Linked DNA regions of Homo sapiens. The protein of the gene in region 2 interacts with the protein of the main gene of each other region in a pairwise test. Each region holds a gene or a part of one and is shown on either strand. Other genes may lie near its edges.

The links.
Region 1: the proteins of TTC3 (region 2) and FMNL2 interact in a two-hybrid assay, tested with the Homo sapiens proteins (one large-scale study listed by BioGRID and IntAct).
Region 3: the proteins of TTC3 (region 2) and SH3BP5 interact in a two-hybrid assay, tested with the Homo sapiens proteins (one large-scale study listed by BioGRID and IntAct).
Region 4: the proteins of TTC3 (region 2) and PPFIBP1 interact in a two-hybrid assay, tested with the Homo sapiens proteins (one large-scale study listed by BioGRID and IntAct).

The regions. Positions count from the first base shown.
Region 1 is NC_000002.12:152,618,870-152,625,173, reverse strand, and holds part of FMNL2 (formin-like protein 2), read right to left. Parts: coding exon 6,016-6,304; intron 5,666-6,015; coding exon 5,456-5,665; intron 4,213-5,455; exon of another isoform or gene 4,083-4,212; intron 2,638-4,082; coding exon of another isoform or gene 2,617-2,637; intron 1-2,616. UniProt on the Homo sapiens protein: Plays a role in the regulation of cell morphology and cytoskeletal organization. Required in the cortical actin filament dynamics.
Region 2 is NC_000021.9:37,078,534-37,084,837, reverse strand, and holds part of TTC3 (E3 ubiquitin-protein ligase TTC3), read right to left. Parts: intron 1,892-6,304; exon of another isoform or gene 507-1,891; intron 1-506. UniProt on the Homo sapiens protein: E3 ubiquitin-protein ligase which catalyzes the formation of 'Lys-48'-polyubiquitin chains. Mediates the ubiquitination and subsequent degradation of phosphorylated Akt (AKT1, AKT2 and AKT3) in the nucleus.
Region 3 is NC_000003.12:15,258,478-15,264,781, forward strand, and holds part of SH3BP5 (SH3 domain-binding protein 5), read right to left. Parts: intron 6,022-6,304; exon of another isoform or gene 5,819-6,021; intron 3,813-5,818; coding exon 3,682-3,812; intron 2,106-3,681; exon of another isoform or gene 1,327-2,105; coding exon 1,284-1,326; exon of another isoform or gene 574-1,283; coding exon 354-573; exon of another isoform or gene 157-353; intron 1-156. UniProt on the Homo sapiens protein: Functions as a guanine nucleotide exchange factor (GEF) with specificity for RAB11A and RAB25. Inhibits the auto- and transphosphorylation activity of BTK. Plays a negative regulatory role in BTK-related cytoplasmic signaling in B-cells.
Region 4 is NC_000012.12:27,687,347-27,691,705, forward strand, and holds part of PPFIBP1 (liprin-beta-1), read left to right. Parts: intron 1-38; coding exon 39-161; intron 162-951; coding exon 952-1,077; intron 1,078-1,668; coding exon 1,669-1,857; intron 1,858-3,489; exon of another isoform or gene 3,490-3,780; intron 3,781-4,359. UniProt on the Homo sapiens protein: May regulate the disassembly of focal adhesions. Did not bind receptor-like tyrosine phosphatases type 2A.

The DNA.
Region 1 (6,304 bases), on a different chromosome or scaffold from region 2:
GGCAACTAATTTGCTGCATTACAGTTACAATATTAGGACAATGGTTGGGACAAATAAAAAGTGTTGGAGAGCAAAGATTATTACTCATGTTACTAGATAGCAGAGAGGGCAAAAACTTGCCATATTTGGACATCCTAAATTCTTGGTTGCAGACCACATGTTTACAAACAAACCTTAGAAGATGATCAGGGACTGCAGACAGTGGCTGACTAGACTACCAGAAGTACAACGTCATGAAGGCTGACTTCCTGTGGGTGATTCCGATAATGAAGATATATTGGCTGCTGGGTTATTTCAAGCAGACTAAGGGATATGAATGGCCTAAATGAGAAAATAGGTTTTGAGGTCTTGCTCTGTCACCCGGGCTGCAGTGCAGTGCCGCAATCATGGCTCGCTGCAGCCTTGACCTCCCAGGCTCGGGCAATCCTCCCACCTCAGCCTCCAAGTAGCTGGAACCACAGCTGTGTGCCACCATGCCTGGCTAATTTTTATATTTATTGTAGAGACAGAGTTTCACATGTTGCCCAGGCTGGTCTCAAACTCCTGAACTCAAGCGAGCTTCCCCACTCGGCCTCCCAGAGTGCTGGGATTACAGGCGTGAGCCATCTTGCCCAGCCTAAGAAAATGTTTAAGACAACAGAGTGAAAAAAGGGGTACATACAGACCAAGACTCTGTCTTAAAAATAAATAAATAAAAGGGGCGGGGGGGAAGGAAAAGAAATTGCTGGGCGTGGTGGCTCAAAGTCCTAGCACTTTGGGAGGCCAAGGCAGGTGGATCACCTGAGGTCAGAAGTTCAAGACCAGCCTGGCCAACATGGTGAAACCCTGTCTCTACTAAAAATACACAAATTAGCCAGTTGTGGTGGTGTGCACCTATAATCCTAGCTACTCGGAAGGCTGAGGCAGGAGAATCGCTTGAACCCGGGAGGCAGAGGTTGCAGTGCACCGAGATCACGCCATAGCACTCTAGCCTGGGTAACAAGAGCGAAACTCCATCTCAAAAAAGAGGAAGGAAGGGAGGAAGGGAGGAAACTCCTCTTTTTTGAGATGGGAAGGAAGGGAAGGGAAGGGAGGGGAGGGGAGGCGAAGGGAATTGAGTGGAGGGGAGGGGAGGGGAGGGGAGGGGAGGGAAGGGAAGGAATTGTATGGATTCTCAGACTCAGAAATAGCCACAGTCCCTTGCCCTTCATTTTGAAAAGCAAGTTCTTCCCAGGAGTCAGCTGTGTTTGACTAGGAGGTATCTACACACTCATTAAAAATACTGAAAACCTCTTAATAGAGAGAATGGGATGTATCTTTAAGGGACTATGGGGAGTGCCAACTCCTCTCACTGTGCGGGAATATGCCAAAAAAGGTAATCCATTTAAAATTATATTTATCTATTATATATCATAAAGAAGTCTTCCCAAACCATTTAGCCATACACATTCAGCTTCGTCAGTCTGTTCTGGGTAGCCTACCACACTACTTGGGAGCTTCACTATTTGTCATTATTAGCAAGACAGGGAGGAGAACTTCAGCGCTTCAGTGCAGAACAAAATAAAAGCAACACACGACTAAGCTTGTAGCTGGCTGCCTGCCTGCCTGCCTCAGTTGGCGTTAACTGAGACAGACAGTGCCTCTCATTCCTCCAGAGTTACAAAGGCCATTTAAACAGCAGGAATGTCATCTGATAAATCCACACAAAAGCATGCAGAAAAACAGACACAGCTTTAGCCAAACCAGGCCTCTCCACCACCAAACATGACACCTTTGTCCCCACTACGCCACAGTGTCAGATTCCTCACCGTACAGCATTTTGTCTACGCTACCCAGGAAAACAGATGTTCTCGATGGGACAAAGGAACAGACTTTCCTCTAGCACTTGCCCTAGCATTGCCTCTGGCACTTCGGCAATGTTAGGGATCTGGGGAGCAGCAGAAGGGCCGCAGAGGAGTCTTTTCATAACCTGAGGTGACAGGTTGGTGCCAATGGCGTCCTACCTTCCTCCCACAGACATGGTAGGCTCATGACGCTCGCTAGAAGTTTGCCATTTGCAACCACCCTTCTAACTATTTAGCAAGGTCAGGAATAAGCCTGAGATCAGAACACAGGCAAGAAAGTTCTCCTCCTTGGAAAGGTTTTCCTGGCTTTAACCAGGGTGGGAGTGGGAAGAGGAGGAAAGCACATAGGTGACCACTGGACACACTGTGTCCCCATGGCTCGGGCTAAAGGCGGGTGAGTGCTCCCTGGAGTGGGCCAGAGACCAGCATGAGGGAGGGAATGGAAAAGGGGCACCTGGCACCTTTTTTTTGTTCTTAGAGTTGAAGTCTCAGATACAAATATAAAAATTAAAAGAAGAAGAAGAAAAAAAAAAAAAAACCTTTTCTCAGAGGAAATGGAAGAGGGCATATGAATCCAGGATGTCTGCTTCAAGGACAATAGTCTCTTATGTAGGTTCAACTAGAATGTGTGGGCAAACCTGGAATCATCATCAGCCACCACCAAGACTTCCCGCAGACACAAAGTCAAAATGCAATGGATCAAAGCAAAATGGAGTGGAAAGATGTCAAGGCACAGTGTGACCAACAGAAACACATGGCAAATACTCAACACACTCAGTGAGGAGCAACCTACAGAAAAGCTTGATTGGCCCATCTTTTGTGGAAGCAGAAAGAACAGAGAAAATACAAAAAAAATTAGATATGGTTAGAGTCAAGTGGCTCAGCAGTTCACGCACTCAGCATAGAATTTCATGCTTCTTGGACACATTTCACAAGGCGGCACAGAGCCAAAAATTCATTTCCATTCAGGCCTGCCTCCAAGACTCAACTATTTCATTTTTAAAATTATCCTTTTTAGAAGAGGGAAGAAAAAAATTATTTCATCGTAGTGGTACCAAACAGCAATACTGAACTGTGCTAGGCATTCCATAGGATAGGAATAATTTTTACATGAAAAACAATCAACCAAAGTCCAAATTCGCATTGTGAGGATCCGAGCACATCCTCCCAGACAGACGGCAAAGGTTCCACCTGCTCAGCAGCCTGTCTCAGGTGACCTACCGGGGGAAAGGGAGCCAGGTTGTTCTATCACAGACTTGAGAGGAAGGAAGCCTTCTTCTTCAAATGCATATTTCACACTACTACTATTTTCTCTATAAAATACAAAGAAAACTCTCAACTAGATAAACTATGGGGCTCTCCTCTTGGTCTTCTGTCTTGGTCTCCAAGAACACACCTGCCCATTGAAGAGATAAGACCCTCGTGTTGCCTGTGGGTCCAGAGGCCAAGTGATGTCATAGGTTTCTGACTTCCCAGGAGGCTTCAGAATATTAGCTCAGCTCTGTCTCTTCATTCTACTGGGCATCCTGATTCTGTCTGGCCTCTTGGTTCCAGAGTGAGAGAGAGAGTTACTCAACACACTAGCAAAACATCTCACCAAATGGGCTTCAATCACTAAGAATTAACAGTCTAAATAAGGATGAATAATAAAGAAAGATTAAAGGCCTTGGAGAAATTGCCTGATCTCGAGCTATCAAAGACTCACAAGGATCTTATAATGCTTCCAAGACATCCCTCACAATCATTTAGTGGACACTTATGGAAATAAAGAGTTCCTGTATTCCCACCTACAGTCCTCTAAATTGCATGAGCCACAACAGGGACCACTTCCAAGTATAGCAAACCCTAAAAGCAGTTGGTTATCAGCCAAGCACAGAGCTCTACACCTTAAAATATTGAGGCAATTGACAGAGCCAACACATTTTTAAAATCAAGTAGTGGGAAGAACCCAAGCAAAACAATTAATAAATAGATCAATCACACAGGACATGGCCCCTTGGAAGGAAGCTCTAGACACATCTCAGCCTCTGGGCTCTCACTCGGCTAAGGCGGTTCTGAGGTCTATGTTAGTGCTCAGGTGCGTGGAAGTGGGTGCTAAATCACACATCAGCGTTTGTCAGAGACAAAGGAAGCAGCCCCAAATGAGATACCACAGCAGACACATCTCACAGCAAGTGCGCCTTGGGGGCTACCAAGAGTGCCTAATCAGGGTGGCCAGGTGCACGGGACGATAATGGGTTTCCACACCCAGTTACTGACAACAGCCTGGTGATGGAACACATTCCCGGGGCTTGATATGAGGTTTCTTGTTTGTCTGTTTATATTCCATAGTCCATCAGTTCCACGATGACTCTGCTCCAACTTTTCTCCTTCAGAAGTAATAAAAGTTCTAGAAGAAAGTGGTAGACGGGGAAGATCTTGAAGGGTAGAAATAAGTCACCGATTTACTGTGGACCTTACTGTGAACTGGAATCTTGTTTCCCTGACAGTTTTATATAGAAGTCGGGGTGGAAGTAAAACCATGGATTTGATGTGGAGTGAATTTATTCTAGGTGACTCTGGGGCATCCAAAAGGGCTCCAGTCATTGGGATGAATGAGCCCCAGTGACCGGCTGGCAGAGCTGCAGATGGGATCCTGGAAGGGATGGAGATTGGGAAATCTTTACAGCTAAGACTGGCTTTTAGACTTTGGGCAAAAGGCTCTGAGAACTATCACAGCCTTGGAAATGGAGGCTATTAGAGTGGTAGTTCTTTATTGTAAATAAGAGACCTCATGAACAGGCTGAAGTAAATGAGGAGGCAGAATTACCCCACGTCACAGGGATGGCAAAGCTTAGAGCAATTCCAGATGCCAGGGAAACACTTCAGGACTGAGAAAACGGCTCGTAGCGTCATCTTTGTTTCCGTGAGTCAAAACAAAGAGCTTAGATTTCAAGGCATTAGAGTGACTCTTCCTCCTGCTCTAACCCCTACCTCCCATTTTATTTCTGGTGAGGTGAGGATGCTGTTTTCTATCTTCTGGTTGGCAAGAGGACATGAATTATTTGGCAGCATTTTAAGGCATGATAATACGGCTGTTGGCAGCACTTCCTCCTTGAAGTTTAAATCCACTCTAGCAAATTCTGATGTTCTCGAATGCTCAGAAGACATGCCTGGAAGCCTACGTCAGGCAATTACACATAAAAGCATGTTTCCCTTTTATAGATGACATCAAAAATACCATTTAAAAAAAAAAAGATCCAGAAGCACTCAATGTCTGTGCCTAATACTGAGCTTTGAATACTACAGGTGTCCAGAAAGTATCTGCTGAACCCACAAAAATGCACTGATCCTCAAGCAGGTAGCTTGTCTCTCTTCCATTCTCTCGGTGGGGCCAGTGGAAGGCAGGAAGATGGTGTAGGAGATCAGAACCTCCCATTGTGGGGTGTGGTTGTGACAAAGACTACTCAGAGCAAAGTGCCTCCCATGCGTGATGATGTTCCCTCTATCGGCTACATCAGCAGGAATTTCTTATACTAGGAAGAGATACACATCATTGCAAGAGACCTGGACTTTGAAAGAATAGCTTCAACTCTCCGAGATAAGACAGCATTTCTGATATGAGTACCTGGGTTTGAATTCTGTGCTCTTACCTGCTAATCCTGAGTTGAAAACCACTGTGGGTGAAGATGTTCCAGGCAGCGGAGGTGCAGAGGGAAGGGGAGGTGCTAAGGGAGGAGCTGGTACAGTCTCAGCTGCAGGGCCTGGGAGAGGAGGAGGCGGAGGGGGCGGTGGGGGAGGAGGAGGTGGAGGAGGGGGCGGCGGCGGCGGTGGCATAGGTGGTGTTACTGGACCATTTTGCACTAGCAAAGAAAAAAGAAACAGATGGACTTTGAAAATACGGGAATGGCTTTCCTGCAATAAGCCATGTGCATATAAAGCCATCTGAAAACAACACACTTAAAAGGACAAAGGACTGTTTTCAAAAACCAAAAAATGTCCTCATTGACATGTGGGAAAAATATTTCAACATATGTGAAATGAGGATTTATAAATTTAATCTCAAAATGTAAACAGTTAAGAACTACTCAAGAAAACCAATTCTTAAAGAACATGCCAACAAAAACGGACAAAGGACAGAAGTGGACAGTTGGCAAAAGAAGAAATACAAATATTCCAAAACTTCCTCAGTCCTCCTGCCAAGGCTTCTTACCTGTTTCAGGTGTGTCTGATGAGGGAGGCAGTGGTGGTGGAGGAGGGGGCAAGGGTCCTGAGGAAGCGGCCCCCATTGTGGGTCCCACAGAGTTACCTGCTACCACTTCTGACCCCATGGACAATGTGCCAGAAGCCACAACTGGCAGTATGGCGATATCCCCATCCCCTTTCTTCTGAATTTTAATGGTCCCTTGTTTCTCTAGCTCATGAATCTTTTTTTCCAGGGTAGACTGTCTTTGAATTGCTTCTTCTTTTTCTTTGACCATTTTTCTTAATGTGTGAACTTG
Region 2 (6,304 bases):
TATTTTTAGTAGAGACAGGATTTCACCATATTGGCCAGGCTGGTCTTGAACTCCTGACCTTGTGATCCGCCCGCCTCGGCCTCCCAAAGTGCTGGGATTACAGGCGTGAGCCACCGCACCCGGCCTTGTATTTTGTTTTTAACTAGAGAGGCAATGTGACAAAGTGGTTAAGAACAGGGACTCTGCAGCCAAGACTCTGGGCTTGAGTCCTGGCTCTCTTGTTTCCTTGGGTGTGTGATCTTGGGCAAGTTACTTAACCTCTCTGTGCTTCCTCTGTGTTTCCTCGCATATCAAATGGGGATAACGATACTACCTACCTGATCAATCTGTTAATACATGTAAAGAGCTTAGAAGAGTACCAGGTATATGGGAAATGCTATAAATACCAGCTATCATTAACATTAATGTTAGATGAGTATTTTTAAAATCCACTGTTTGGATGCTTCCAGCTAAATAGTCTACCTTAATTGCTAAATCCAAAGAGCACTTTTCAGCTTACAACTTACTTGACGCTGTGGACCACTTCCTCCTCAGAACTCTTCATTTGGACTCCAAAGACCATCTTCTCCTGGTTTTCCTCCTATTCGTCTGGCTGCTCTTCCTCAGTTTCCTTCATGGGTTCTTCTTCTCCATTCCCCGCCACCCAATGTCAACTCTCTTTTCTTCTCACTCTTACTCTCTCCTTGGGTGAATTTATCCACCACACCCATGACTTAACACAGCACTTTCTGAACTTGCATCGTTTGCATAGCTTCACCGTGATTTTTGCCATTTCCATGTATCACATATATTTTTAGTTAATATTTCCCTTTTATTGAGCTCACTTGGCCTAAGTGATAATGTCCATGATTATCAAAGGTTAGATGTGCAAGTTATGTTTCTCATACACATTAAATTCCTATCTATTAAAATTTTTTCAAGTGTTTATCTATGTACCAGTTTAAATTATCTCATATGCACTGCAGTAAACAATGGCTTCCAAAATTCCAAATGCTGAAGACTCCCAAATCCTTCCAGGCGGGGTTGTATCTCTTGACTTCTAGACCCTACTAGAACTACTACAGGATCTTAACCAAGATGTCCCACAAGCCCCTCTGAATCAGGAAGTTCAAAAACAAACATCTTTTCCTCAAAAACAAACATATGAAATGAAGTTCTTTCCTCTTTCTGTATGCTGTTTATCAGTTAATTGTTCTACATGTCATTTTACTGCCCAAACCTAAACCCTGGGAGTCAACCTAGACTCCCCAGTCTCCTTCAATATTTCTGTCCAATGGACCACTAACTCTTGTCATTTCTGCTTCCCTAAGAAATCTAAAATTAGCACACATATACTTCTTCATGCCCAGTGCCACTGCCTTCACTGTTTCTCCTCTGAACTAATTTAACAAGCAGTCTCCTAACTGGTCAGACTTGCCTTCAATCTTGGCATCCTCTAAAACTCTGATCATATCACTTTACTGCTTAAAACCATGCAACAGCTTCCCTTCAGCTTGAGAATAAAGTCCAACTTCCCTAATATAAGCATAGAAGACCTTTTGTGATCTTGCTCCTGCTTTTATCCCCAGTCACTCCACAACACACAACCTAGAAGCCAGTCATACCCAACTGCTTGTCCTTCCTAAACAAAACTTATTCTGCAACCACCTAATGTCTATTAGTTCTTAATACTCAATTTCAGGAAGCATTTCCTGATCTTCCCACTACCATCAAGTTGATTTTTGCACCTCTTCTCTGTAAACAAGAGCACCCTGCCCATGTCTCTGACAGCAGTTTTCACATTGTTTGACCATCACAGGTTTATCTCTGCAGGGTCACTATGGATCCAGAGGATATATTGTGCAATCCATTTGCCATCTGTACTGCTATTTACTTAATACTTTTCTTTAGGATAACTCAAATCTTAACTTAGATGTAAACTAGTTTTAATGGAAATGTTGGTATCACCAAGAAAGCTTGCTTGGTACCATAAAATTTTTTATAATACAATCAAACAAAAATATACTACTAAAATTAAATATTAAAATAAAGAGCTTCTGATCCCATCAGTTATGGTCAACTATACACTCTGGGGGAATGTACTGTTGGGAGGAAAAAGGTATATCCTAGATTAAAAAAAAAAACACTTTTTGGATGTTTTTGCTGAGCTCATAGAAATAGGGGAACATGTGAAGGCACCCTCTCCACGCAAAAGCAACAAACCTTGAGCTAGAAATTAAACCTGGCTACAGTTTAGTGCTACAAGTAGTGGTGCCAAGAGCAGTAATAGGATCAGGACACTGAGCCCTGGGCCAGAAGCAAAATGTAGGAACTCAAAAGTGATGCCAGCTAAACTTTCTGGCTCCCAGACAAAGCTGATAGAAATGCTTTCAGAAAGCAAGCATCCTCAAATTAGACTCTCAAGATCACCACAAAGATCAAACAGAAGTTCATAATCAATGATCACCAAACACATGAGGTGACAGCTACATTGAGGAGAGACAACAGAAAAAAAAACAAAAAAGCAATAAATTTAGACATCCCCCTCCTCAAGGATATCAGACATTGGGAATGTCTGATATAGTCTACAGAATAGCTATAGAGTCACAAAAATCAGCATATAACATGAGAACATGAAGAATGACTGGACATATCAAAAAAGAACCAGGCAGAACTTTTAGAAATTAAAAATGCGGCCGGGCATGGTGGCTCATGCCTGTAATCCCAGCACTCTGGGAGGCCAACGTGAGCAGATGACGAGGTCAGGAGATCGAGACCATCCTGGGTAACACGGTGAAACCCCGTCTCTACTAAAAATACAAAAAAATTAGCCGGGCGTGGTGGCGGGCGCCTGTAGTCCCAGCTACTCGGGAGGCTGAGGCAGGAGAATGGCGTGAACCCGGGAGGCGGAGCTTGCAGTGAGCTGAGATCGCGCCTCTGCACTCCAGCCTGGGCGACAGAGAGAGACTCCATCTTAAAAAAAAAAAAAAAAAGTAATTAAAAATGCAATTGTTAAAAGAAAAAAAAGAGACAGGATGGGTTACAGAGGATATTAGGCACAGTTGAAGAGAAAATTGGTGAACTAAAATATATGCCTTATGAAATTATCCAGCACTGTAAATTCTGGTAAAGAGAAACAAAGAGATAAAAAATATGAAAGATAAAGAATAAGTGATCTGGAAACAGTTTAGTGTATATATATATCCAGTTAAAGTTCCAGCAGGAGAGAAGAGACTAATGAGACATAATATTTAAAGAATACAGGGCTCAGAAACTTCTAGATCTCATGAAAGACAAAATGCAGAATCATGAAACACATGCATCCAAAATAGGATAAATATAATCTCTATCTAGACTTAGAAGTGAAATGATGTAACACAAAAGACAGAAAATCCAATGTAACTAAAAGAAAAATGATATTTTCTTCAAAAAACGCATAAATAGGCTGGGTGCAGTGGCTCACGCCTGTAATCCCAGCACTTTGGGAGGCTGAGGCGGACAGATCACGAGGTCAAGAGATCAAGACCATCCTGGCCAACATGGTGAAACCCCATCTCTACTAAAAATACAAAAATTGGCCAGGCATGGTGGCAGGTGCCTGTAGTCCCAGCTACTTGGGAGTCTGAGGCAGGAGAATCGCTTGAATCCAGGAGGCGGAGGTTGCAATGAGCCAAGATGGCGCCACTGCACTCCAGCCTAACAACACAGCAAGACTCCACCTCAAAAAAAAAAAAAAAAAAAAAAAAAAAGGCATAAATAAAACTGGCAGCACACTTTGTATAAGCAACAGCAGAATAGTATTCCTACCCTACTGACAGAAAAGAAACACCAACCTACAATTGTACATCCATCAAAATGATCTGTCAAGAACAAAGGTAAAATAAAAATACTTTTAGATTTTTTTTAATATCTAAAACTGAGTCAAACACCAACCAAGACACCTGGAACATAACCAATTAAAAGACAGAAGTTGTCTGGTGAGATTAAAAGAAAAATCCAGTAGTATGTCCCTTATAAGAGACACTTAAAATGTAAGGACACTAAAAAAAATCAAAGTAAAATGAAAGAAAAGAATATTCCAGGTAAATTAGCACCAAAAGAAAGACGGGATCAGACAAAAAGCCTCTAAGACAAAGAAGCAAACTTAGAGAAGATCACAATATAGTAAAGGTTCGAGCCACTAGGAAAAAAATGTTAAGCTTGCATGTAGCTAATAAAAGTCTCAAAATACAGAAGAACAAAAATTGTTAGAACTACAGGAAATCTGTTAGAAACTAGTAATGGTGGAATATTGCAACACACTTCTCTCAGTTAATGATAGGATAAACCAAAATTAATAAGGATAAAGACTATCAGAACAACACAAATAACAAGCTTTACCTAATAGACACTTAACAATTACAGAATATATACTCTTCACAAGTGTACACAGAACAGTTCTAATAATTCACTATGTACAAGGCCATAAAGCAAGGGCAAAAAAAAAAAAATGCTAAAAAGATAAAATATTCTCTGGCAACACAAGTAAGAAATCGATAATTAAAGGAAAACAATATAGACACATTTGAAAATTTAAAAATGTCTAAGTAACTCATAAGTCAAAGAAAAAATCAAAATAGAAATTGTAAAAATACTTAGATTTGAAAGTTAATGAAAACACTATAAATTAAACTATGTTAGATAAGCAAAAATGAACTTTGAGGAAGTTTACAGTCTTGCATGCTTATACTAGGAAATCGGAATGGTTGAAAATTAATATTAAGTGTGTAATTTAAGTGAAAAAAATAGTAAAATAATAAACTGAAAGTAAAATGAAATAATAAAAGAGAAAAAAGATCAATGAAATAAAAAACAAATAATAGAACAAATTAGGCCAAAAGTTAATCCTTTGCCAAGATTTTAAAAATGGACAAACTTTTACTAAGACTGATCAAGAAAGAGAAGTCAGACATAAATAATATTCAACATGAGAAAAGGGGAACACATATACAAATAAAACAGAGATTAAAAAGAGAATTAATGCCATACCACGAGCGGTGGCTCACACCTGTAATCCTAGCACTTTGGGAGGCCGAGGTGGGCAGACCACTTGAGGTCAGGAGTTTGTGAAGAGCCTGGCCAACATGGTGAAACTCCGTCTCTACTAAAAATACAAAAAAATCAGCCAAGCATGGTGGCGCACGGCTGTAATCCCAGCTACTCAGGAGGCTGAGGCAGGAGAATCGCTTGAACTCAGGAGGCAGAGGTTGCAATGAGATGGCACCACTGCACTACTCCAGCCTGGGCAACAGAGGGAGACTCTATCTTAAAAAAAAAAAAAAAAAAAAAAAAAAAAAAAAAACCATACCATAAACTTGATGAAAGGACAAATTTCTAAAACTTACCAAAACTGACTAAAAGAAATAGAATACCTGAACAGTCCTATGACTGTTCAACTGCTAATTACTACTAAACCTCCAAGAAGAAAACATTAGATCCAAATGACCTTATAGTTAAGTTCCACCAAGCTTTTAAGAAACAAATCACTCCAATCCAAACTCTCCCAGGGAACAGAAAAAGAGGAACTATTCTCTAACTCATGGTATAAAGTCAGTGTAACTTTAATACCCAAGTCAGATAAGACAGCCAATAAAGAAAAATGAGAAGTGATTCTAGCCATAAACAGACACAAAAATCTAAATAAAATATGAGCAAACTCAATCTAGTAGTTCATAAAAATATAATCTATAAAGACCAATTTGGGTTTATCTCAAGAAAGAATATAAAAGAAAATGAACAGTTTTAAATCTATAAAACGGAATTCATTACATTTAACAGATTAAAGAAGAAAAGACACAAGATATTCTCAACAAATGCAGAAAAGCATGTGACAACTGAAAAGACTTCCCTAACTTAATCAAAGGTATCTACAAAAATTCACAGCAAATGTTATTCTCAGCTGAGAAATATTCTCTTTAAAATTGAGAACAAGAACTCTATGCCCACTATAATCGCTTCTAATGAACAACCCTAATCACTTCCATTGAACGTAAGTATAAAGTATGCCAGCACATTTAAGACCAAAAAAATGAATAAATTAAAAGCAAAAATAACTAGAAGAACTAAAACTGTCACTATTTGCAAATGATATAATTATCCACACAGAAAACACAAAGGAATTTCAGAAAAAATATTAGAAGTAGTAAGTTTATCAAGTGGATGACTAAAGGGTCAATATTTTTAAAAATTCATTAAATTTCTATTTAACAATAAGTTAAAATATTTACTAACAATAAATAAGTTAAGATAGAATCTTTAAGAACACCACCATTTATAATAGCAACAA
Region 3 (6,304 bases), on a different chromosome or scaffold from region 2:
ATCATGCCTTAGTAATGATGTAAAGGTAGCTTTGAATCAAATCTGATTACAGCTCTTCTTTCCTGCAGGACTTCTCAGCCTTGAATGTTCAAATGTATACTTTGACTCTCAAAGAGGAGTGAAGGTGTAACATTTTCCCAATTTATTTGACCACAGAATCCTGACTTTGAGGAACACTTAGTACCTTCTTAATGAACACAGTGTTCCATAAAACATGGGAACCCACCAGAAATAGCCCTCAGGCCTGCCCAACTCTGAGACCTTTCACTGATGGCCAGAGAAAGTGAGGACCTTGGGAAACAAATCACACAGTCTGATATCTCCCCACATACCCAGTGGAGCCCCTGACTTACCAGAAATGGCATCAGGCTCAGGTTTGCTCCCTGGCAGATCCTCCACAGATGTGCTGCTGCCCTCAGCACCAACACCGCATCCCCGAGGCCCCATGGCACTGGAGCGCCGCCGCTCGTGGATCTCATCTGAGATCATCTCCAGGTTCTTCAGGGCCATCTTGTACTCGCCTTTTGCCAGGGTCAGTTTGGCCTGCAGGTCATCCACAGTCTTTTTCAGTTGCTGATCAAGAGAACAGGAGACTAAGTGAAGACTACCCTGCTAGCCTTAAGATGCTTTCTGAATGACAGGTTCAAGTACATTTTCTGCCCATCATTCTACTTCAAGGAATTTTCCAAGACATGACTGAAGACCTAATTACCATTGTAACTGCTATTCATTCACCAGACAAAATCAGCCACCACCATCCCCAGATCCCATCCAGGTGACAACCTCTAATATCCAAAAACTCTCACTGGTGGAACAAACCCCATCAGGGAAGCAAAAATGGGCATCAGACACACCAAAGTCCCACAGTCTAGACATCTGGTTCCCAGTACAGTGGTTCTCAAAGTTGAGCTTGCATCAAAATCCCCTTGGGTGTTAAGACTCAGCTCACTAGACTCCAACCTCAGAGTTTCTAATTCAGTCGGTCTAGAGTGGGACCTGGTCTATCAGGTCTCCAGGTGATGCTGATGCTGCTGGTCCTAAGAGCATGCTGTGAGAACCACTGGCCTAGTACAACAGAGAAGGTGACTGAATGGCAGTTACAGAGGTTCAGAGACCACTGAAGACCCAACCGAGACAATTTTGAGGTCTGAAAACTCAGTAAAGCCTGTCTCTCCACTTTCCCCTTATAGCAAGTGGCCCATGTGATACTCTGCTACCCCAGAAAAGTGAAGCTTTGAGTGCAGAAAAATCTCATCAGTGACGAAGCCCAAAGCTACACATACCTCGAGCTGCACATAGTACTTTGCCTTGAGTTCAAAATAAGGCCTGCAGAAGACAGGAAGGAAAGCCATCAGAGTAATATAATACAGTGACCACAGTCAACTCCACAAGATGAACAAGAGGCATCAGCTACCACTGGCCAGGTCGTCCTTCCAATATTTAGTAAACTCTTAACAAGGCCGTGACATGTCAGTGATGCTCCTAGCTCTGGAGACTGACAGACACCAGATGGAACGACTGGGCTCACCCAGGGCTATATTAACAGGAGGCCCATCTCAAGACACGGGGAACCCACACACACATATCTTGGGGACTCTGCAACTTAGCTCATGTTCCTCCTCTGTGGGAAGGCTGTTCAGAGCCTCACAGGTTATACCCAGCAGTAAGGGTGGCCTGGATCTGCTCTCCTAATGAAGTTGGCTCCCCAGGGATGAAGAGCAGCTGAGGCTGGAGAAGGGGCTGCTTAAACCTCCTCCTCTACTGAAGTCAACTGGGGAAGAGAGAGAAGCACCACTCCTCCCTCACAGCACAGCAAGGCCACCACTAGGAGGGGGTCTCAGGTTGGTCCTCCCAAACCTTGTCCAAAGACTGGAGTTATTAGTTGGCTGACTCAGCCACATAATGGGCCCAAGAAATGCCAGCGTCCTAGCAGTTCCCTTGGTTCTGGGTCAGCTGAAAGAGCTTGGCTCTTTTTTAGGAACTTTGGTGCCTGAACATTAAGAGTAGATCACTGCTTTATTCTTGAGCTGTTCACCCTCCATGAAGCTCTCAAGTCCTGCATCCTGAGGATCCAGATGGATGACAAGGACACAGGACTGCCATTGGTGGGTATGAAAATCCTGAAATTTGGGGGGAGAGAGAGGTGTATAAGCTCTCTCGTGTGACCAAAAGGAGCACAAGGTGAAGAGTATGTGTGTGAATGGGCATCGGAGGGCACAGGGAAGATGTCCCAGCAAAAGGAACATGAGCATCCATGCAAGGGAGTGTGGCTGGAGAGGCAGGGTGGGCATGGAGGTGGCCTGGAAGCCACTCTGTGGAATGCACAGATGTACATTTTAACCTTTGGGCAGACAGGAGCCACCCAAGACTACGATCTATCCCTGTACTCTTCTCGGAGTCTGAAAAGGTTGGCAAAGTACAATCACAAGATTTATTTTCTTAAACAGGTTAATGGATGAGTATGTGATGTGTGTGCAGTGTGAATTCGGGGTCTTTTGAGAAAAGACCCACCATATTCACACCAAAGGAAGCAGCATCAAAGGCTGCTCCTCGGCCTCCTTGGGTGTTGGCATGTGGATGATGCCTGGGCTTGCCCAGAGCAGGCACAGGTCCTACAACAACCCTCGCCACCTCCTGCCTCCCCTGCAGAAAAATGCCATATACACGTCTACTACTTAGCTCTCAGGAGATCAGCCCCTGACACACCAAAAACCAAACCAAAACAAAAATACACTAGTCAATTAAGTGCAATAGTAAATGGTTAAATGGTGTTCCTCTGCATGTATGTGTACATATGTATGTTGGAAGAGTGTGAGCAGAAACTAAAGAAAAGTCAAGCCTGGGTGAAGGTACTGGGGGGTAGTACAGAGCCTAGGAGGACCAAACTCTTCCTTGCAGATCCTCTTCCTCACTGAATTGTCACCTTTCCCTCACTTGCATGAGGACTGGGCATCTGCCAAGCTTCCAACTGCCCAGCCCCTCCTGGCTGGGGCTGTGACCACACCTGGAGAACAGGCATTCAGTAGCCCTGCACAGCCTGCTCTGGGTCTATCTTTGGCTGTTAAGTCTAGGTCATCATAAGTCCTCCTCCTTTTGCTAGGAGGCCTAGCAATTGGGAATGAAGCAGGGGGCTTGTCCCCAAGAGAGGGTACACAGTTGTGCCTGCCCACCATTATCAATGTTGTATAAAAATATACAGGGCTGTAGTGAGAAGAGATTGGAGAAAAAAAAAAAAACTCTACTAAAGCCAGTCTTACAGCATTTTATCAGCTCTTGATCACAGGAAACATGTATTGTGAACACAACTCATCCCTATTACACTGACAGATAAATTGAGGGATAGGGCCTTGACAACACTGTCAACCACAGATCCCAGAGTACAGCGTGAATTTACCAAATCCCAGCCAATGGGCCATTTAATAATGTGCCTTTGAAATTCCTTTTTCTGTGTTTCCTAACTTAGTCATATCTAGAGCAGCCCACCCCTTAGCATCCTCTGCTTCTGGGGGTCATAGAATATTAGGGGGAAAGAGAGCCTGAGCAGGGGGGCTCTGGTGAGGCCCCAGGGTCTACATCAAAGGACTACTCAGGGTGGTCCTTGAGTGTGTGACATACAAAAGGCTGAGAAGATGCAGACTAGGACAGCCGCACGGCCCCAGGGAAGGCCCTGTCCAGACTTACTTGGACTTGTTGATGGCTCTCTTGAGTTTCTTCTCCAGCTGTCGCATGCGGCCCATGGCGGCATTGTACCTGGCTGCCGTCTCCTTATGCACCAGCTCGCTCCTGGTCTTGGTCTGCTCCGCCTCCATGACCTTAAAATGACAGCAGAGTTCAGCCCAGTCCAGCCCAGAACAGCCCAGGCTTGGAATATTACTTATATTATTTTTCAAAAAATATTCTTTGCCCGGGCATGGTGACACATGTGTAATCCCAGCACTTTGGGAGGCCAAGGTGGGTGGATCACGAGGTCAGGAGATCGGGACCATCCTAGCCAACATGGTGAAACCCGTCACTGCTAAAAATACAAAAATCAGCCGGGCCTGGTGGTGTGCTCCTGTAGTCCCAGCTACTCAGGAGGCTAAGGCAGGAGAATCACTTGAACCCGGAGGCAGAGGTTGCAGTGAGCCAAGATCGTGCCACTGCACTCCAGCCTGGGCGACAGAGTGAGACTCTGTCTCAAAAATAAAAATACTCTTTGGGCCAGGCACGGTGGCTCACACCTGTAATCACAGTCCTTTGGGAGGCTGAGGTGGGTGGATCGCCTAAGGTCAGGAGTTTGAGACCAGCCTGGCCAACATGGCAAAACCCCGTCTCTACTAAAAATATAAACATTTGCCAGGCATGGTGGCACATGCCTGTAGTCCCAGCTACTTGAAAGGCTGAGGCAGGAGAATCACCTGAACCCAGGAGATGAAGGTTGCAGTAAGCCGAGATCACGCCACTGCACTCCATCCTGGGCAGCACAGCAAGACTCCATCTCAAAATATATATGTATATATAGATATCTATATCTAGATATATATTTGAGCAAATTAGTGGTCAGACTAAGAATAAACCAACTTCCCAACAGTGGTTTTCTTTTCCTATTTATCTATTTTGAAAAAGCCTTGTGAGGAAAGATTAAATAGCTAAATTGGCTGTGGCAATGACTGAGAAAGAAAATGGAAAAACAAAAACCAGAAAATTTTGAACTATTTTCTGATTCAACAGCTGTCCACTTTCTTCTCAGGTTCCTCGATCTAAGTAGCCACCTAGACCTCCTCCCGTTCACACCTTGGGGCAGGGGCCTGATGGGCAGGCAAATGGCCAAATAGCAGCAGTGGGAACCTAAGAGATGGGGAACCTAATGGGGAGACCACCAAAACCAAGAACTAGGCATCGTGCCAGGCACGATGGCAGTCAAGCCAGCAAAGCAGCCATGACTTCCATTGTTTGGTCCTTTCCCAAATATTCTGAACTAGTTGGCTGTGCACAGAAGAACTCAGGATCCAGAAAGGGCAAACTTTACATTTAAGCAATTAAATTAAAACCCAGTCATTCACATCAGATTTTGAGGTACACAAACATTTGTGAGCAGAAGACAAGTCAAAGTTCTGGTGGGAAATTCTGGTGGGAACACTTTGTTAAGTCTGTTGAAAAAAATGAGTTACAAAACCAATACTCAAGGGCCCTCAATGGCCAAAAAACAAAAGCAGCTCACAGGCCCAGTCCCAGAGACATGGGCAATGTTAATTCTCTCCTTGCTTACCTACAGAAAAGCATCAGAACAAGGCCTGCCTTGAAGAAAGAGGAGGGAAACAAACCGCAGTTCAGGCCACATAAGCAGCTTGCGATTTCTTTCCCTGTCTTCTGCCTACCACTCAGTGTTATAAAATAAACCGGAGAGACAGTAGAGGTTAGGCTAAAGGGTTATTCTCTAATTCTGTATTCTCTGGGGAGCATCCGAGAGGAGCCCAGAGGGCTCATGGTCACTAGTCAGCTCTCTCAGACCCCGTAGAACAATTTTAGGGAGGTACCACCATGTCTTTAGTTCACAGTTAAAAAAGAAGGCCACAGAGGAAGGTTGCCAATGTTCTACCATCTCCTCCAGTCAACAGCCACAATCAGCCCTAGGATAGTTTACTTATTACTTACGATAAGGATTTTTAAAGGTACCATGAAAAATTATGAAAGACTTTTATATGGGCATTAAAAATTACAGGGTGTCCTGTCTAGGGCACCCTTCCAGGCTATCTCTGACTTTGTCTTGAAGCTGTTTTACAACCCTGTAAGTTGTAGAAAACTGACAGTAATACAAATGGTTTTTTTTTTTTTCCAGAGAAATGAAGATGAACTGTGTCACAGATGCAGTGGATTACTGACTGCCCTTGTAATAGTCCATTTTGCATCTGTTGGTAATTCATTGAGGCACTCTTGGTTTTCTATGAGTTTGTATTTTTTGAATTCAAGAATTGTAACATCACTGTTAGATCCCTCCTTATTTAATGAGAGAAATAAAATATTTGACACGAGAAAATTTTATATTTGTATCCCAATTATGCTTTTACCTTCTTAAAAATATCTTTTAACAAAGGCTTCAGTGCTTCAGATAATTTTTAAAAACAGAAAAACAACAAAATCAGAGAAGAAAAATAGGAGAGAACTGAGCTAAGCTGGCACGAGGAGACATGCTTGCTCACATGACTTCTCAACCAAGACCAAAGGGCTAAGAGAATCCTTTCCCTTTGCTTCCAAAACCAGATATTTCACAAGGAAACAAAATGCACTAAAAATATCTCATGCTTGATACTTGGGGAAACAGCAG
Region 4 (4,359 bases), on a different chromosome or scaffold from region 2:
CCAGCACAGTGAGCTCCTCCTTTTGTTCTTTTTTGCAGGATGACTTACTGTCTCTGAAGGTTGTAAGTGTGCTACACCATCTCAGTATCAAAAGGGCCATCCAGGTCCTGAGGATCAATAACTTTGAACCAAACTGTCTACGGAGGCGGCCATCTGATGAGGTAGTGTTTTAAGATTGAGGTTTATAAGCATGCACTTCCCAGGCATGGGACTGTCCATGTGTCGAAACTAAGAGCCATTTTTCTTGGAGCCTGCAGGAAAAGCCTTAAAATCCAGCCTCATTTACTTCTTAGGCTTTTTCTGTATTCCTTCCTTTTCTCTCCATGACGGTTCCCCTTGTGTAACTAAAGCCAAGGGTTCTTTTTCAGTTATGCTTCTTCCTTTTCTTGGGTGTATTTTTTTTTCCTGACTCTAATCAACAGAGATAAATATCACTATAAAGACTTCCTTTTCTGGCCAAGTATAGTGGCCAATGCCTATAATCCCAGCACTTTGGGAGGCCAAGGCAGAAGAATCACTTGAGCCCAGGAGATCAAGACCAGCCTGGGCAACATAGGAAGACCCTGTCTCTACAAAAATAATAATAAATTAGCCAGGCATGGTGGGTGCACGCTGGTGGTCCCAGCTACTCAGGAGGCTGAGGTAGGAGGATCCGTCTGAGCCTGGGAGATGGAGGCTGCAGTGAGCCCTGATTATACCACTGCAACGCCAGCGTGGGTAAGAGAATTAGACCCTGTCTTAAAAAAAAAAAAGACTTCCTTTCCTAAAGCAATGCTTTATTAGTATATAAGAAAGCTTGAAACTCAAACTATGACAGAAATTCTTTAAAAGAGAATTTTTCCCTTTCTTTTTGCATTTAGTGGGTTGTTGAGTAACTGTACTCCATGGAGCAGACTTTTTAGACAGAAAATGCAATTTAATATTTAGGATCCTGGTTGTGTGTTCCCATAGAATACCATCGCCCCATCAGAAGTTCAGAAGTGGACTAACCATCGAGTGATGGAGTGGCTGCGCTCCGTGGACTTGGCAGAATATGCGCCCAATCTCAGAGGCAGTGGTGTCCATGGTGGGCTCATGGTAAAGCTCTGATTTAATTTAAAATTGACTTACTTTGCTTCCTTTAGTCTAGTCAGTAGGATATTATCAATTTTTGCTTATCATAATCCTAAAGTCATCTGACTCAACCCTCCTGCCCTATTTCTAGTAAACCTTTACTTTCAGAGTATTTGTATTGATATCTTATAACTCTAGATTGAATTTAAAGCCAGTTCTCTTTTATTGTCCTCTTTCATGTTGAATAACATGTAGCTGCTTTCTCTCATATGATCATGTTTGAAAACCCCTGCAAGGATGCAGATTGTATTTCTGCATGTTAATGTTGCTTAAGGAGGTGGCTCCCACAGACAGCACCCTAGAGAGGCAGAGCACTGATATTGGGATGCCTGAAGCCTGGATTTCAGGACCAGCTCTATCACTCACTAACTTGGGAGAAATGGAGAAAAGATATGTAAATTAAAGATCAAAGTCCATATTGTGTCTACCTCACCGGGCTGTTGAGAGGATCATTGGAGATAACCTAAGAGAAAGCTTTGCAAATTATAAAGCACAATACAAACATGTATGATTTGTGGTGACTTTTGACAAGCTTTTTTTTTTTTCTTTAAACAGGTTCTAGAGCCTCGTTTTAACGTAGAAACAATGGCTCAGTTATTGAACATCCCACCCAATAAGACTTTGCTGCGAAGACATTTGGCCACTCATTTCAACCTTCTGATTGGGGCTGAGGCACAGCACCAGAAGCGAGATGCCATGGAGCTGCCGGATTATGTACTTCTAACAGCTACTGCCAAAGTGAAGGTTGGTTCAGGCTCATACGGTTTAATAATTGCTTGGCGCAAAGGCAACGTTTTGTCGGTTACCTGGTTATTCTGTTTTCTGGGGTTTACTAAGTTTTGTGGGTGGGTTCCTTACCAGCAGATGCAGGAATCCTCAGCGCTTAGTTGTCTTGGGAGAAAGATGTTGGCCAATAGACAGTTGACAGATAGAGAGCTTTATTGAAGGGAAATAGGGAGCAAAGAGCTTATTGTAAGAATAAAAAAAAAAGAAGAAGAAGTACAGGGGCTGATCCTGCAGGGAAAACAGCAGGGTCGCAGTAACAATGTTTATTTAAAGGGACAGTACACTCCAAAAACCAAGGCACAGCGGGCTGCTGAAAGAGAATGAGCCCAAGAGTTCTGCATTGGGTTTTTATGATGTCCAGTTTTTTCTTGAAGCTCTCACCACTGTGTTAAGTCTCTGCCTTTTTTATCTCGTTTTCCCGCTCCTGCCTTGAGTCCTTGCCTTCTCCCTGCCTAGTTCCCAACCCAGGCTTGTGGGACCCTCCCTTAACTATAGTTGGTGCGCATGCGTGGGCCGGGTGTTGGCTGCACTTCCACCTAAAGGCTGCATTGCTCATTCCCGCCGCCCCAGGAAGGTTGTATACCAGTCAAATCTATACGTACTGTACCTGCGTTTCTCTTAGGAATTCTCCTTTACCTTCTTCCCCTCTTTATCAGCATGCAGCTAGCTACATTCTGGCAGGTGATCTGCAGAGTGAGTGATTACTGGGCGTCTTAAGGGGCGTTCCTTTCTGCATAGGTATTTCCCCTCCTCTCTGCTCAAATGGAGCATGCATGTTTTGGGTGGTTTCTGGGGTGCGAGATTTTCCAGACCTCTCTTTTCTCAGGGGCTTCCCCTCATGTCTAGCTATCTGCCCACTCTAACAAGTTGAAGGAACAGTTGACCCTTGAAGAACATGAGTTTGAATTACACAGGTCCACTCCTACTCGGATTTTTTTTTTTCAAGCAAATGTGGAGGGATGCAAACCCCACATATAGGGAGGCCCAACTTTTTAGGTACACGGGTACTGCTGGACTTGAGTATGTACGGATTTTGGTATACATGGGGGTCTTGGAACTAATGCTCTGTGTATACTGAGGGACAACTGAGTATATATCTTTTAAAAGTATAATAATTAAGAGAATGCACCCAGATAGCTCAGTCAGTAGAGCATCAGACTTTTAATCTGAGGGTCCAAGGTTCATGTCCCTTTTTGGGTGTTCCCTCTTAGGTGGGCATGGTGGCTCATGCCTGTAGTCCCAGTGCATTGGGAGGCCAAGGCAGGAGGATCACCTGAGTCCAGTAGTTCAAGGCTGCAATGAGCTCTGATTGAGCTATGAGCATGCTACTGCACTCCAGCCTGGACAACAGAGCAAGATTCTGCCTCTAAAAAAATAATAATGAACAGCATAATATTGGCTTCCATAATCCATGTATTGGCAATGCAGACAGCCCATAACTTGGGTCCAAATATTGATTGCAGTTGTTCTGTTTTTATAAATCAAGTACAGAAGAGAGGTTTCTCTTGTACAGATTTAGCTTCTCTGGCTTATGATTGACCAGCCTCGTAAATAGGAAAATACACTTTAAAAATGATTGAAGGTGGGCCAGAAGAGAATGGGTATTTCCTAGTTTACCTGGATTTATGGATCATACCAAATTCAGATTACTTTTTCTTCTTTAAAATTAATCCTAGATTAACTCTTCTAAATATGTTATCCCAACCAACTTGATGGGTTACTGGGTCCTCCAGAAATTTGTGCCAAAGTTCTTTTTAATTTTTTTTTACCCCCTCTATCTGCCTGAGTATCCAGTGACCAACCCAGTGACCATCATGGAGTTTCTCTTCTAAGTATCACTGATGTTTCCTCTCCAAAAAATTCTTTTAGCAGTCACCAGTCCTGTTATGGAAGCAGAATAGGCATACAAGATAATTATAGCCTCACCCAAAGAAAAAATATAGTGAAGTCTATTCTATTTTGCTAATCTTAGATTGAAAAACCTTGCAAAATTGGATTCAGCTGTGAGAAATCTCATTGCATTAAGTCCTGTCTAATCAAAACTATGAAGCCAGGTGCAGTGGCTTGTGCCTGTAGTTTCAGCTACTCCAGAGGCTGAGGCAGGAGGATCCCTTGAGCCCAGGAGTTTGAGGCCAGCCTGGGCAACATAGCAAGATTCTGTCTCTAAAAATAATAGTAATGATGTAATCAAATTATTCTTGCCATATTTTGTTTATCACGGTGACTATTCAGCTATTTGGCGTGAATAAGAAGAATAAGGTTAATTTCCTGAGATTCATAACAAGGGTCATTTATCATTGCATCATTTATATGCCTAGGATGCCCTTTTGTTTTTATCCATATTTAAACATCCAGCTACTTTTCTCTCTACCATGGGGTAAATAATTAAATTATACATATAGGAGGGAGGGGGCAACGCAAAAAAAAATCACATGTTATCAGGCCTTGATTATATGAATT